2 separate regions of the Homo sapiens genome follow, and region 1 is linked to region 2. The links come from fine-mapping of genetic effects on gene expression. A gene starts in region 2. The other region holds a variant in brackets. All regions are shown on one strand. Distances are between the middles of the regions. Region 1 has its middle 12 kb from the start of ABHD11. Region 2 holds the start of STX1A (syntaxin 1A).

What was found. PIP is the estimated chance that this variant, and not a neighbour inherited with it, causes the effect.
Region 1: its variant is the best candidate, but not a certain one, in a credible set for the expression of STX1A in cerebellar hemisphere (GTEx, PIP 0.69).

The regions. Positions count from the first base shown.
Region 1 is chr7:73,746,431-73,754,754 of GRCh38, reverse strand. No RefSeq gene overlaps it. Among named protein-coding and RNA genes, the nearest start is that of ABHD11, 12 kb to the right of the region's middle. The variant A/G (reference allele first, on the strand shown) is at 3,635.
Region 2 is chr7:73,715,334-73,723,657 of GRCh38, reverse strand. It overlaps STX1A (syntaxin 1A), which reads left to right and starts at 3,989. Exons shown (of 10, transcript NM_004603.4): 1 at 3,989-4,056. The coding sequence starts at 4,027. RefSeq lists silencers at 3,874-4,073, 4,134-4,333, 4,344-4,403, 4,514-4,593 and an enhancer at 7,680-8,211.

The sequences.
Region 1 (8,324 bases), 31 kb before region 2:
GATGGGCATTTAGGTTGATTCCATGCCTTTGCTATTGTGAATAGTGCTGCAGGGCTGGTTGTTGTTGTTGTTGTTTTTTAATTACATTTCTTTTTTTTTTTTTTTTTTTTTTTTTTTTGAGATGGAGTCTCGCTTGGTTGCCCAGGCTGGAGTGCAGTGGCGCCATCTCAGCTCACTGCAAGCTCTGCCTCCCGGGTTCATGCTATCCTCCTGCCTCAGCCTCCCAAGTATCTGGGACTACAGGTGCCTGCCACCACACCCGGCTAATTTTTTGTTGTTGTTGTATTTTTAGCAGAGACGGGGTTTCACCATGTTAGCCAGGATGGTCTCGATCTCCTGACCTTGTGATCCGCCCACCTCGGCCTCCCAAAGTGCTCGGATTATAGGCATGAACCACTGCGCCCGGCCTAAATTTCTTTTTTTAAATAGAGACAGGGTTTTGTCATATTGCCCAGGCTGGTCTGGAACTCCTGGGCTCAAGTGATCCGCCCACCTCACCCTCCCAAAATGCTGGAATTACAAGCGTGAGCCACCATGCCCAACCTATAAGTATGCTTCTGAGTCTTAAATAAGTAAGTTTGAGATGGGCAGAGCTAAGAGGGGAAGCCTTCCCAAGCAGGATTCACTGATGGGCAACAGCAAGGAGAAAAATGATATGCACAAGGCAGAAAAATGATATGCACAAGAGTGAGCAGAGGCTGACCTGATTGAAGCAGGAAATTCATATCCAGAAACAGTAAGAGGCCAGGCGCGGTGGCTCATGCCTGTAATCCCGGCACTTTGGGAGGTCGAGGCAGGCGGATCACCTGAGGTCAGGAGCTCAAGACCAGCCTGGCCAACATGGTGAAACACCGTCTCTACTAAAAATACAAAAATTAGCCAGGCATGGTGGTGCGAGCCTGTAATCCCAGCTACTCAGAAGGCTGAGGAACAAGAATTGTTTGAACTTGGGAGGTGGCGGTTGCAGTGAGCTGAGATTGCACCACTGCACTCCAACCTGGGTGACAGAGTGAGACTCTGTCTCAGAAAAAAAAAGAACAAAGTTGGAGGACTCATACTTTCTGCTTTCAAAACTTACTACAAAGCTACAGTAATCAAAACAGTGGTACTGGCATGAAGACAGACATATAGACCAATGGAATAGAATAAAAAGCTCAGAAATAAACACTCATATATGAAGTCAAATAATTTTCAATAAGGATACCAAAACCACTCAGTGAGGAATGGGCAATCTTTTCACAGATAATGCTGGGAAAACTGGATATTTGCATGCAAAAAAATGAAGTTGGTTCCTTAACACCATATAAAAAAATTTACTCAAAATGGATCAAAGACCTAAATATAAGATCTAAAACTATAAAACTTAGATGGCTGATCAACCAAGTTTATAGGATATTATAAATCCTTTGTTGTCATTTCAACAGTGTTCACACAATCTTCACCAGGAGTAGTTTCCATCTCAAGAAACCACTTTCTGGCTGGGCGCGGTGGCTCACGCCTGTAATGCCAGCAATTTGGGAGGCTGAGGCAGGTGGATCACTTGAGGTCAGGAGTTTGAGACCAGCCTGGCCAACATGGTGAAACCCTGTCTCTACTAAAAATACAAAAATTAGCTGGGCATGCTGGCACGTGCCTGTAGTCCCAGCTACTTGGGAGGCTGAGGCAGGAGAATCGCTTGAACCCAGGAGACAGAGATTGCAGTGAGCCCAGACGGCACCATTGCACTCCAGCCTGGGTGACAGAGCAAGACTCCGTCTCCAAAAAAAAAAAAAAAGAAACCGCTTTCTTTGCTCATCATAAGAAGCAACCCCTTGCCAGGCACAGTGGCTCATGCCTGTAATCCCAACACTTTGGGAGGCCAAGGCAGGCAGATCACTTGAGACCAGGAGTTCAAGACCAGGCTAGCCAATAAGGCGAAGCCCCTCTCTAAAAAAAAAAAAAAAAATACAAAAAGTAGCAGGGTGTGGTGGTGCACAGCTGTGATCCCAGCTACTCAGGAGGCTGAGGCATGAGGATCTCTTGAACCCACGAGGCGGAGGTTACAGTGAGTCAAGATCACACCACTGCACTCCAGCCTGGGCAACAGAGCGAGACTCTGTCTCAAAAAACACCAAGACGTAACAAAGAAGCAACTCATCATCTTTTCAAGTTTGATCATGAGATTGTAGCAATTCAGTCCCATCTTCACGCTTGGCTTCTAATCCTAGTTCTTTTGTTATTTCCACCACATCTGCAATTCCTTCCTCCACTGAAGTCTTGAATCCCTCAAACTTATCCATGAGGGTGGAATTCACTTCTTCTAAACTCCTGCTAATGTGGATATTGTCACCTCCTCCCATGAACCCTGAATGTTCTTAATGGCTTCCAGAATGGCGAATTCTTTCCAGGAGGTTTTCAATTTACCTTGCCCAGATCCATCAGAGGAATCACTATCTATGGCAGCTACAGCCTCACAAAATGTATTTCTTAAATAATAAGACTTAAAAGTCTAAATTGCTCCTTGATCCATGAACAGCAGAATGGATGTTTTATTTGCAGCCATGAAAACAACATTAATCTCTTTGTACATCTTCAGCAGAGCTCTTGGGTGACCAGGTGCATTGTCAATAAGCAATACTATTTTGAACAGAATCTTTTCTTTTTTCTGAGCAGGAGGTGTCAACAGTGGGCTTCAAATATTCAGCAAACCATCTTGTAAACAGATGTGCAGTCACCTAAGCTTTGTTGTTCCATTTCTAGAGCACAGGCAGAGTCGATTTAATGTAATTCTTTTTTTTTTTTTTTTTTTTTTTTTGAGATAGAGTTTCGTTCTTGTTGCCCAGGCTGGAGTGCAGTGGCGCAATCTCGGCTCACGGCACTGCCTCCTGGGTTCAAGCGATTCTCCTGTCCCAGCCTCCCAAGTAGCTGGGATTACAGGCATATGCCACCACACCTGGCTAATTTTTGTATTTTTAGTAGAGACAGGGTTTCATCATATTGGTCAGGCTGGTCTCGAACTCCTGACCTCAGGTGATCTGCCCACCTCAGCCTCCCAAAGTGCTGGGATTACAGGTGTGAGCCACCGCACCTGGCCGATTTAATGTAATTCTTAAGGGCCCTGGGATTTTCAGAATGGCAAAGGAGCATTGGTTTTAACTTCAAGTCACCAGCTGCATTACCCCGAACAAGAGTCAGCCTGTCCTTTGAAGCTTCAAAGCCAGGCATTAACTTCTCTCTAGCTATGAAAATCTTAGATAAGCCGGACACAGTGTTGGCTCATGCCTATAATCCTAGTACTTTGTTTTCTTGTTTGTTTGTTTGTTTGTTTGTTTGAGATGGAGTTTCACTCTTTTGGCCCAGGCTGCAGTGCAGTGGCATGATCTCGCTTCACTGCAACCTCCACCTCCTGGGTTCAAGTGATTCTCCTGCCTCAGCCTCCTGAGTAGCAGGGATTACAGGCGTGCGCCACCATGCCCAGCTAATTTTTTGTATTTTTAGAAGAGATGGGGTTTCACCATGTTGGCCAGGCTGGTCTTAAACTCCTGACCTCAAGCGATCCACTGGCCTCAGCCTCCCGAAGTGCTGGGATTACAGGCATGAGCCATGGTGCGGGTCAACCCTTTTGGTCTTAAAGCTTGAAACTTACATTTACTTG[A/G]TCTGAATTTCTTCTTTAGGAAATGACCATCAGCCCTCTCAAAAAGTATGAAAGAACTGAAACTCACCAGATCATGGCATCTAGACAATGAAATGCCAGGCCCCTCATTCATCATGATTGCTTCCTTACCCTTCCCCCAAGTTCTTGTTTTCCCATACATGGTTACATTTGTTCCCTGCTATATAAGACCCTAACTTCAGTCGATCAGGGAGATGGATTTGAGACCAATCTCCCATCTCAGCCACAGCACCCAATTAAAGCCTTCTTCCTTGGCAATAATCGTCTCAGTGATTGGCTTTCTGTGCGGCAAGCAGCAGGACCTCGCCTGAACCCCTGCTGTTTTGGTAACAAGAACAGTGCTTGGCATTTGTTAAGCATTCCATAAGTGTTAACTGTTCTAATATCTCAGGGGCATCTCAAACATATAGAGCATTGTATAGGGAAAAGAGAGAGATCCGACTGTTACTGTGTCTATGTAGAAAAGGAAGACATAAGAAACTCCATTTTGATCTGTACTAAGAAAATTGTTTTGCCTTGAGATGCTGTTAATCCGTAAACTTTAGCCCCGACCCTGTGCTCACAGAAACATGTGCTGTATGGCATCAAGGTTTAAGGGATCTAGGGCTGTGCAGGCTGTGCCTTGTTAACAATATGTTTACAGGTAGTATGCTTGGTAAAAGTCATCGCCATTCTCCAGTCTCGATTAACCAAGGGCACAATGCACTGCGGAAAGCCGCAGGGACCTCTGCCTAAGAAAGCCTGGGCATTGTCCAAAGTTTCCCTCCACTGAGACAGCCTGAGATGTGGCCTCGTGGGAAGGGAAAGAACTGACCGTCCCCCAGCCCAACACCCAAAAAAGGGTCTGTGCTGAGGAGGATTAGTAAAAGAGGAAGGCCTCTTGCGGTTGAGATAAGAGGAAGGCCTCTGTCTCTTGCTTGTCCCTGGAAACAGAATGTCTCAGTGTAAAACCCGATCGTACATTTGTTCTATTCTGAGATAGAAGAAAACCGCCCTGTGGCTGGAGGCAAGATATGCTGGCGGCAATGCTGCGCTGTAATTTTTTACTACACTGAGCTGTTTGGGTGGAGAGAAGCATAAATCTAGCCTATGTACACATCCAGGCACAGTACCTTCCCTTGAACTTATTTGTGACATAGATTCCTTTGCTCACGTTTTCCTGCTGACCTTCTCCCCACTATCACCCTGTTCTCCTGCTGCATTCCCCTTGCCGAGATAGTGAAAATACTAATCAATAAATACTGAGGGAACTCAGAGACCAGTGCCGGTGCGGGTCCTCCGTATGCTGAGCGCTGATCCCCTGGGCCCACTGTTCTTTCTCTCTACTTTGTCTCTGTCTTATTTATTTTCTCAGTCTCTCGTCCCACCTGACGAGAAATACCCACAGGTGTGGAGGGGCAGGCCCCCTACAGCACTGGGGTGAAAGCTAAGATGAATTACAGAAAATAATGTCATTGCACATCTAAGTTTTTATTGACATTCGGTAACTGCTAGAATGTCCCAAGTGGACATTCTAGAGTCTCCTTACTTGCACCCTATAGAGTGGAAAAAAACAAACAAACAAAACCACCTTCCCCATCTCAGTAAATAGCACAACTACTCGCCACCCACATGTTCAATCCAGAAACCTGGGAGCTGTCCTTGGTGTCTTCCTCTCCCTCACCACCATCTTTCCCCCTCCCCATCCCATTCCTCATCAAATCCTGTTGATTCGAACTCCAAAATACATCCCAAATCTATCTTTCTTTCCCTACTTCCACAGCCACCTTCCAGTCATGTGACCATCATGCCTCAGTTGAATGTCTGCAATAGCTTCCTCATTTTGCCGCTTCTCCTCTGCTTCCCCTCTAATCTGCCTCACACCTTCTTCTACACAGCCAAATAGTCCTTTGAAAGTGTAAATCGGGGCTGGGTGCGGTGGGTCACGCCTGTAATCCCAGCACTTTGGGAGGCCGAGGAGGGTGGATCACGAGGTCAGGAGATTGAGGCCATCCTGGCTAACACAGTGAAACCCCGTCTCTACTAAAACTACAAAAAATTAGGCGGGTGTGGTGGTGGGCACCTGTAGTCCCAGCTACTCGGGAGGCTGAGGCAGGAGAATGGTGGGAACCTGGGAGGCGGAGCTTGCAGTGAGCTGAGATGGTGCCACTGCACTCCAGCCTGGGCGACAGAGCAAGACTCCGCCTCAAAAAAAAACAAAAATGTAAACCGGGCGGGGCATGGTGGCTCATGCCTGTAATCCCAGTACTTTGGGAGGCTGAGGCATACAGATCACATGAGATCAGGAGTTCAAGACCAGCCTGGCCAAGATGGTGAAACCTCATCTCTACTAAAAATACAAAAATTAGCCGGGAGCCTATAATCCCAGCTACTTGGGAGACTGAGGCAGAGAACTGCTTGAACCCGGGAGGTGGAGGTTGCAGTGAGCTGAGATGGCGCCAGTGCACTCCAGCCTGGGAGACAGAGCGAGGCTCCATCTCAAAAAAAACAAAAGAAGTAAATCGGCTGGGCACGGTGGCTCACGCCTGTAATCCCAGCACTTTGGGAGGCCAAGGTGGGCAGATCACTTGAGGTCAGGAGTTTGAGATCAGCCTGGCCAACATGGTGAAACCCCATCTCTACTAAAAATACAAAAAATTAGCCAGGCATGGTGGCTCACACTTGTAGTCCCAGCTACTCAGGAGGCTGAGGCAGGAGAATCACTTGAACCTAGGAGGTGGAGGTTGCAGTGAGCCGAAATTGCACTATTGCACTCCAGCCTAGGTGACAAGAGCAAAACTCCATCTCAAAAATAAAAATGAAAATAAATAAAAATGTAAATCACGGTGGTGTGCACCTGTAGTCCCATCTAGTCCAGAGGCTGAGGAGGGAAGATTGTTTGAGCCCAGGAGTTCAAGGCCAGACTGGGCAAAATAGTGAGACCCCCATCTCTAAAACTAAAATAAATAAATACGTAAAATTAGCCAGTGTGGTGGTATACACCCGTAGTCCCAGCTACTTAGGAGGCTAAGGCAGGAGAATCACTTGAGCCAGGAAGTTGGAGGCTATAATGAGCTATGATTGTTTTAATGCACTTCACACTCCAGCCTGGATATGACAATGCAAGACCCTGTCTCTTTAAAAAAAAAAAAAAAAAAAAGAAAAAGAAAAAGAAAAAAAAGAGGCTGGGTTCGGTGGCTCACACCTGTAAACACTTTGGGAGGCTGAGGCAGGAGAATCACTTGAGCTCAGAAGTTTGAGACCAACCGGGTTATGTGGTGAAACCCCGTCTCTACAGAAAAATACAAAAATTAGGCTGGGCGTGGTGGCACACACCTGTAATCCCAGCTACTTGGGAGGTGGAGGCAGGAGAATTGCTTGAATTCGGGAGGCGGAGGCTGTAGTCAGCTGAGATCGTGCCACTGCACTCCAGCCTGGGTGATAGAGCAAGACTCCTGTGTTGCCTCCTCCTGGACTTGTCCATCTTGGCCCCTCCAGACATTTCCCTCCCTGGTCATCAGCATGATCTTTTAACAACATAAAATATGCTTCTATTTTAATCTATTTTGTTTTTTTGTACATTTTCCTGTTTTTCTGGGCTCTGTGTTCTGGGGTCTCAAACAAACAAACAAACAAAATTAGCCAGGTGTGGTGGCATGCACCTGTAGTCCAGCTACTTGGGAGGCTGAGGTGGGAGGATCTCTTGAGTCCAGGAGGCAGAGGTTGCAGTGAGCCGAGATCCTGCCACTGCACTCCAGCCTGGGCAACAGAGCCAGACTCTGTCTCAAAAAAAAAAAAAAAGAAAAGAAAAGAAAAAGAAAAGGAAAGTCAGTTGGTTGTGGACCAATATGTATGGCATTCTAGCAGTTACCGAATGTCAGTAACAAACTTAAATGTGCAATGACATTATTTTCTGTAATTCACCTTAGTGTCCATCCTCGATGCTCTATTCTGCAGAAGCAGCTGGAAACAAGTTTTTTTTTTTTTTTGAGATGGAGTCTCGCTCTGTCACCCAGGCTGGAGTGCAGTGACTCAATCTCGGCTCACTGCAACCTCCACGTCTCAGATACAAGCAATTCTCCTACCTTAGCCTCCCAAGTAGCTGGGATTACAGGTGGGTGCCACCACGCTGGCTAATTTTTGTATTTTTAGTAGAGACGGGGTTTCACCATGTTGGGCAAGCTGGTCTCGAACTCCTGACCTCAAGTGATCCACCTGCCTCAGCCTCCCAAAGTGCTGGGATTACAGACGTGACCATCACAGCCGGCCTGGAAACAAGTTTAACCTCAGTCCTCCTGAGACTGGGCCACAATTCCTGCATACTCAACAGGGCCAGATTTGCTTAGAGAGGAGGGAGCCTGCAGGGAGTTGTACAGCATCCAGCCCTCTAGCAGCAATGACAAGACATCCATCATCCTGTGTCAACAGCCCCTCCAGTTCCGCAGGCTGCACTGTGTCTGCTCTGAACCTGGGAAACAGAGGAATATTTTGCAAGCTGCTTATGGTCCTGCCGGCCTGGCAGGCTCATGAGCCATTCTTCTCTGGGGACCCTGCCAAGAAGCAGGTGGCAGACCTTCCTTCCATTCTTGGCCAAGATACTGTCTCTGCTGAAGCATTCCCTTCCCTTAAGGGCTTTAGCTTTTGAAACACATAAACCAGCTTCTCCACTCTTAGGTCCAGCCGTATGCATCCC
Region 2 (8,324 bases):
CCCAGGCTGGAGTGCAGTGGTGCGATCTCTGCTCACTGCAAGCTCTGCCTCGCAGGTTCACGCCATTCTCCTGCCTCCGCCTCCCAAGTATCTGGGACTACAGGCGCCCACCACCATGCCCGGCTAATTTTTTTTTTTTTTTTTTTTTTGTATTTTTGGTAGAGACAGGGTTTCACCATGTTAGCCAGGATGGTCTCGATCTCCTGACCTCGTGATCCGCCCACCTCAGCCTCCCAAAGTGCTGGGATTACAGGCATAAGCCACCATGCCCGGCCAATACTTTTTAAATGAAGGAATGAAGCCTGGGTATGGTAGCTCATGCCTGCAATCCCAGAAATTTGGGAGGCCGAGGTGGGTGGATCACCTGAGGTTAGGAATTCGAGACCAGCCTGGCCAAGGTGGAGAAACTCCATCTCTACTAAAAATACAAAAAATTAGCCAGGTGTGGTGGCACATGCCTGTAATCTCAGCTATCTGGGAGGCTGAGGCAGGAGAATTGCTTGAACCCGGGAGGCGGAAGTTGCAGTGAGCCAAGATTGTGCCATTTTACTCCAGCCTGGATGACAAGAGTGAAACTCGGTCTCTAAATAAATAAAGGAATGATAATCTGGCCCTCGATGGGCTTCCCTTTTCTGCACAATAGTTTAGCATCCAAGGCCTCCCCCTTCCTTGGGCTCATCCCCCACCTATGTCCACCCAAGTGCCACAGCAGGCTCCTGAGGTGCTCCCGGTAGAGTGCTCCATTTTAGAGAGCTCCCCACCCCCACCCCTGCCCCAGCATCCTTCCTTTGTCCACTCCCTGCTGCAATCCCACTGCAACACCCTGTTCGAATGTCACCACCTCTGGGAAGCCACCCTGGTTCCCTCACCTACCAAAACCATGTCTGTCTCCCCCACTGCAGTGGGAACATCTTGAGTGCAGAACAGTGGCCCCAGAGCATGGTTTCCCATTTAATGTTTGATGAATGAATGAATGATTAAATGAGGAAAAGACTTAGCAGAAAAACAGAGTTTAAAGAGAAGGGCAAGCCCGGGTGCAGTGCCTCACACCTGTAATCCCAGCACTTTGGGAGGCCAAGGCGGGTAGATCATTTGAGGTCAGGAGTTCAAGACCAGCCTGGCCAACATGGTGACGCCCCATCTCTACTACAAATACAAAAATTAGCTGGGCGTGGTGGCGGGTGCCTGTAATCCCAGCTGCTCAAGAAGCTGAGGCAGGAAAATCACTTGAACATGGGAGGTGGAGGTTGTAGTGAGCCTGGATTGCACCACTGCACTGCAGCCTGGGTGACAGAAAGAGACTCAGCCTTAAAAAAACAAACAAACAAAAAAAAGAAGTGAAAGGCACACTTTTTTTTTTTTTTTAAGAGATGGAGTCCAGGCTGGTCTTAAACTCCTGGCCTCAAGCAATCCTCCCTCCTGGGCCTCCCAAAGTGCTGGATTACAGGCATGAGCCACTGTGCCTGGCCACATTTATTTCTTTATTCATTTTTCATGCTACTATTTAATATGCGTCTCAATGAGTGATGCTTGGTGTGACACCAGGGCTCTCAGAGGGCAGGAGCTGAGCCTCCCTTTCCTGCCCTCTCCCTAAGGGGCCAGACACTGGGCTCTGGGGGCATACCTGTGACCCACCCCACTGACTCACCCTGCAGGCTAGACCAGGAGTCAGGCAGACTCCCCTGTCACTTGTCATCTCTGGGCAAGTTCCTCTAGCACTTACCTCCTTACTTTTCCTCTGTGAAGTGGGGCGCCATCAATGCCCATTCTGCAGGGCACCCAAAGTTGAAGCCGGGACAACTGGAACAGGGTGTGGCTGTTCCCTCTGCCAGGCCACATCGGACCGTCTTGGGCCAGATTTTCCAGGGAAGAAGGGAAAGCTGGAACAGTGTCCCTAGCTTGCCTGGCAGCCAGCTAACCTGTGCCCATAGTCTGGGAGAGGTGCCAGGCCCAGACACACTGGGCAGCAGGGGGCTGGATTGGCTCCAGAGCTCCAATGCTTTGGCAGTCCTGGGGAAGGGAAGGGATGTGCTTGGCTTCAGGTCAAGAGGGTGTGGGCCACAGAAGTGACAGCTGGGGGTGGTGGAGGGCACAGCGGGCTTATGGGGGTGTGTGCGAGACCACTGTTGCAACAAGATGCTGGCAGGGACCTTCAAAAGAACATCTGCTGTTGACTGGCCTCCCCACTCCCACTCCTCCACAGGTTTTCCCATGAGTCCTAGAGGAAGCCAGGCCCCAGGCTTCTAGATAGAAAATAGAACCTACATTGGCCAAGTGTAATCCCAGTGCTTTGGAAGCCCAAGCCAGGAGGATCGCTTGAGGCTAGGACTTTGAGACCAGCCTGGGCAACATGAGGAGACCCCGTCTTTACAAAAACGAAAAAAGAGAAAATAGAACCTCAGGCCTAGAGCCAGAGTTCAGGATTGGGGATGCAGGGAAAGGAGGAGAGGGGGGCCATAACTCAAATCTCTTTCCCAAAGATAGAGTAGTTCCTGGCTGGGTGCAGTGGCTCACACCTGTAATCCCAGCACTTTGGGAGGCTGAGGCAGGCAGATCACTTGAGGTCAGGAGTTCGAAACCAGCCTGGACAACATGGTGAAACCCCTTCTCTACTAAAAATACAAAAAAATTAGCCAGGCGTGGTTGTGGGTGCCTGTAATCTCAAGCTACTTGGGAGGCTGAGGCAGGAGAATTGCTTGAACTCGGGAGGTGGAGGTTGCAGTGAGCCAAGATCGTGCTACTGCACTCCAGACTGGGCAACAGAGTGAGACTCCGTCTCAAAAAAAAAAAAAAAAAATAGGCCGGGCACGGTGGCTCACGCCTATAAGCCCAGCACTTTGGGAGGCCGAGGCGGGAGAATCAAGAGGTCAAGAGTTTGAGACCAGCCTGCTCAACATGGTGAAACCCTGTCTCTACTAAAAAATACAAAAAATTAGCCGGGCGTGGTGGTGGGCACCTGTAATCCCAGCTACTTGGGAGGATGAGGCAGGAGACTCGCTTGAACCCAGGAGGCAGAGCTGAGATAGCGCCACTGCACTCCAGCCTGGGCGACAAGAGTGAAACTCCATCTCATAAATAAATAATCAAACAAACAAACAAACATAAAAAGATAGAGGAGTTCCTTCATCCTGCAGGAAAAAGGGGTGGGTCACGCAGCATCAGAGCTGTGAACTGAGAAATCCTAGGGAAAGAAGAGGCCAGTGCCTGAGTCCCTACTGGATGATGGGAGCAAGGGGGAAGGGTGGAGGCTCCCAGACTGGAACTCTCCAGGAGGTTTTTGGCTGGGGAACAGAAGGGAGAGCAGGAGGTCCCAAGGTAATGAAATGAAGGAGGGAGTTACAACCTTCAGCAAATTCTGGGGAAGTGAAGGGATCTGAGGATGAGGACCGGATTCTGGGACAGGGATGCTGAGCTGCTAAGTCGGGAAGAGGCTGGAAGCCAGGCACGGTGGCTCACGCCTGTAATCGCAGAGCTTTGGGAGGAGGGAGGATCGCTTGAGGACAGGAGTTCAAGACCAGCCTGAGTAACATAGCAAGACCCTGTCTCTACAAAATATTTGAAAATTATTCAGGAGTAGTGGCGAGCAACTCTAGTCCCAGCCACCCAGGAGACTGAGGCGGGAGGATTGCCTGAGCTCAGGAGCTCAAGGCTGCAGTGAGCTATGATTGCACCACAGCACTCCAGCCTGGGCGACAGAGCGAGACCCTGTCTCCAAAAATAATAAATAAAAAACGAGACAGGGCTGGGGCAGAGGAGGCAGCAGGGTCTCTGGGGACCCATCCCCGGGAGCGATCACGCGTGCGGAACGTCCAGGACGAGACCCCAGGGCTTCGATCCCCACGGGGCTGCTCGTGCGGGGTGGGGCGGGGTCTGGGCGGGGTCTGGGCGGGGCCCGGGCGGGGTGGGGCGGGGCCGGGGTCCCGGGGGCCGGGGCGGGGCCGGGCTGGCGCTGCGCAGCCGCGGGGCGGCCGTCGCGCATGCGGGGCTCACACGGCTGCAGCCGGCGCCGCTGCCACTCCCGGGAGCATGAAGGACCGAACCCAGGAGCTCCGCACGGTGAGTCCGGCCCCAGCGCGCGGCCGCCCGCCGCCCGCCGCCAGCGCCAACGCGCCGGACACTTCCCGCCCGGCTCCCGCGGCCAGGATGGTGGCCGCTCCTGCGCCCCCAGCCAGGGCTGAAGGGAGCGGGGCGAGCCAGGGACCTCGACCCCCCTCCGGGTTCCGCCCCTCGGACCCACTCGGGGTCAGGCTCGCGTGAGCTCGGCCGCGCTGACACGTGGACGGTCGGCTGGAGTCCGGGGTCCTGGATAAACTTTTCGGGGCCCTCTTGATTTGGGGGGTTCGGAGGGTATGATGGGGTTTTGGTGGCGGGACCTCTTCCCCCTCCCGCAGAGCAGGCCCTTTCTCTGGCCCCCTCACTGCCCCTCATCTCTGACCTCCCGTGCCCCCTCGGTGTAGACAGACGAGGGGACCGCGGTGGGAACCTCCTTGGTGTAGACAGACGAGGGGACCGCGGTGGGCCGGTGCCGGTCCCCTGCGCGGGGCCCCGCTGCGGGGCGCGCTGCGGAAACCTGATCGTCGGGTGGTGGCGGCCTCCTCGGGCCACCCTGGTCACCTGTGGCTCCCATCACCTGTGGCTCCCCCTCTGCTTGGTCGCAGTAGGGATCCACTGCCCGCCCCAGGTATGGGGGGGGGGGCGTCACACCCGCCCCCGGTCCACCTATCCACCTTCGGGCTTTCGGGCAGCACTGGCTGGCGTTTCCAGACCCTTCAGGGTTCCTTGCGACTTGGATCTATTTTTCTACCTGTATCTGGGAAACCCCTGGGGTGTGGCTCCTGGGGCGGGGTTTGGGGGGAGTAGGAGGATGCACAAACGTTCTGAGTCAGAGCCCACCTTCTCCCAGCCCAGAGACCCCTGCAGCCTGCGTGGGTCCCCTTCCCCTGGCCTCTGCCCTTAGGGATGAGGAGCCCAGGAGGATGGTGACCGGGAGTGGAGGACAGCGACGGAAATGAAGCCTCTCTGGGTGTGTCGGGGAGGGGGGGTGGATCAAGGCTCAAGACTAGATTGAGTCTCATCTGGTCATCTGGTCCCCTGGCTGGCCACCTGGCTGGCAGCCCTGCCTGCTGATCCCTGGGAGCACCCCCCACCCCGCTCCCTGGGCTAGGAACTAGAACCCTAAGGTCCCCTCCTATGGAAAATGTCAAGTGTCCTTTGGGCATTTGACCCCACGGCTTGTCTTCTCCACCCAGAGGCTCCCTGAGTTGGAGCCTGTCTGCCCCATTATGTCATGGTTGCCTCCTGGGCATCCTGGAGCCGGGACCTGGGCTCCCCTGCCTTCATGTCCCCCACTTGCTCTGGCACCACGGCCTCCACTTTGCCTCCAGACCTGTTATTCCTGGCCGAGCGCCCAGCCCCTGGTGTAAACCCCATGAGGTTTCAAAGGAAGAAGATGGTCCCTCAAGTCGCATATGGGCTCTAAACACTTCCCCCGCGGCCCCTGTGGTTGCCCTCAAGTTTCCTGAGCTCCGTTGAGTCAGAATGAGTGTTTTCCTGGTGACGGATGGCTGTGTGGTGTAATGTGCTGATGTTTAGGCGCCTGGTAGGTTACCTGAGGGTGTGTGTGGGAACCAAGTGGTCAGGGGAACCATGGGCCCCTACATAGGATAATAGCCTCTGGCATGTCAGCCTTCATCCCCCTAGCTGAAGGGGAAACTGAGGCACAAAAGAAACACGGCTTGCCTGCTAGAGGGAGGGGTGGTAGAAAAGGGCTTTGCCTCATCCCTGAAGATAGTCAGACTCAGGCCTGGCTGACACTGGGGGACAGCCAGTGGAGCTGGGGTTGTGAAGCGTTTGAACCCAGATCTTTTTGCTCTGATGTCTGTCTCTGTTACTACCTCCTCGCCCCCTGATTAGATGGTGAAGCCAGGCTTTGCTTTGAATGGTCTGAGGCTTCCGCTCCAGACACCCCCACCCTCCCCACACAAGGCATTCAGAGCCCAGGGAGGCTGTACCCATTGCTGGGTGGCCCTGCCCAGGGAGGGCTTTCTAGCAGACAGGTGGACGGCTGGCAGGCAGGAGCCCACCCGGGGTGGGGTGAGACAGTCAGTCTTGGTGGGGCCACTGTTCCCACAGGCTGCTTTCCCTCTGGACCTAGGGTTCCCATCTGTGAAGTGGGGATGGGAAAGCCTAGAATTCAGTTTCTCGGGACGAGAAGCAGGGCTACAGGTCTCCTGACTCCAGCTCCACATTTGTAGGAGGCCTGAAGCCCCAGGAGTCAGAATTTTCAGCCCAGAATCCCCAGAAAGGAAGAGGCCAGCACTGGCTGAGCTGGACTGGGCTGGACTGGGCTGGACTGGGGCGGGCTGGGCTGGGCTGGGCTGAACAGAGATGGTGCTGGGGACAGCGGCTGTGCACCGCTCCCAGCCCTCCCTCCCTCCCTCTTCCTCCTCCTCCTCCCTCTTCTTTCTCCTTCTCCCCCACCCAACACCACCACATTTGGAAGGAGGCGAAGAGAGCTTATTTATAAAAGTCACACTTGGGGAAGGAGCTGGCGCGTTTCCTCACTCTGCAGGCCCGGCCCAGCCCTCCAGCCTTCTCCAGCCTTCTCCAGCTCCCAACTCTCCCTCTGCAGATGGGGAGTGAAGGGGGTCACTGGGGACTAGCCAGGGGGCCTCAATGCTGTCGCAGTCCCTCAGAGATCAGAAAGGCCACTTGCAGGTTACAGGTAACAAAGAGAGACCGAAGACAGGGCCAGGGTCACACAGCCAGGGAAAGACTTTTAGGTTAGAGCATCCCCAGGAGCCCCACTCAGGCTGTAGCTGCCTCCTCCCCTCAACTCAGAGACTCCCTGATTTTCTTCCTGGGGACTTTGCAGAGCTGACCTTTCTCCCTGGGCCCAGAACATGTATTTGTCTATGTGCCAGGTCATGTGGGACAGACACATGGGACCTGTTGCAGGAGGCTGAAGACGTAGCAAGGAGGGAGAGTTGGAGCAGCACAATCCTGGAAGGCTTCCTGGAAGAAGAGACCCTGGGATAGCACAGGAGCAGGAGCTGGATTTGAATAGGAGGAGAGAAGGTGATCCAAAGGAGGGGACAGCTTAGTGAAGGCAGAGAGATTGGAATGCTCAACCAGGAGAGAATAGCAGGTGGTCCTGACAGCTGGTGTCTGGGGCCCCCTGAAGTGCCTTGAGGTCTAGACTAGGGCCCAACTCACTGGAGCAGCCCAGGCAGGCCTGGATGGGAAGGCCCAGGGCCCTGCTTTGCCCATCAGTTTCCCCTTCTCTTTCGTTGCTGGGAAGAGTCTGGCGGTTGGGTGGCAACACCGGGCAGGTTCATCCTTAATCTCCCTCTGCTCATTTCCTCATCTGCAGAATGGAGCCAGTGTTACCTACTTTGCAGAGTGGCAGGCACGAGAGTGTAAGAACAGGAGCCGGACAGGGCTCGCCCGATCCTTCCTCCCATTACGTTCCAGAGGTTTCCCAGCATGAACGATGCATTTGGGTACATTTTCATCTGGGGTGCAGGTGGAACGGCCTCCCGGGACCATCTAGTTCAACCTCCTATCTTACAGATCAGAAAACAGGTCCAGAAAGGGCCAGGTGTTTATCTGAGGTCATGCAGCCTGTGGGGGCAGAGCCTGGCCCCTTCCACGGCCTGAAGCTGCCTCCCTGAGCCACTCTGGGGCCCTGTGAAGGGGCAGGCTCTGCAGGGCGGGGACCTGGTGTACACACAGCTGGAGGCTGGAGACAGGGTGAGGAGGCTCAGATTGCACAGCCGTCTTTCCTGGAGACCCAGCTTGGCCTCTCGCACACCCCTGACTCAGCTCCGGGCCTCTCTGCACTAGTGATATTGACTTTGATTAGTCATTTAAAAGAAGAAGGGAAAAAAATAGCCCTCGAGGCAGACAACAGCCACTGTGCTCAGCAGTGATGAATCAACCTTGCCAGCCTGGTGGCTTCCCCTGGGACACGCCTGGAGGCTGCCTGGCCTCTGCGCCTCTTGGAGGAGTCAGACTATTACATCCAGGAAGGTGTCCTGGAATCCTGGAGTCTCTGCTAGGAGAGACCACCAGGGCTGCCCCACCTCTGCCAGGGGAAGCTCAGGGCATCCAGCTCCCCGTGGTTCCAGCAGGGTCTGTTCTTCCTAGCAGTCTCCATGCTAGGGAGGTAAGGAGCACTCCCTCCCAGCCTTCCTGGTTGGAGGTGGTGTTTTTTGTTGGTTTTTTTTTTGTTTTTTTAGACGGAGTCTCGCACTGTCTCCAGGCTGGAGTGCAATGGTGCCATCTCAGCTCACTGCAGCCTCCACCTCCTGGGTTCAAGTGAT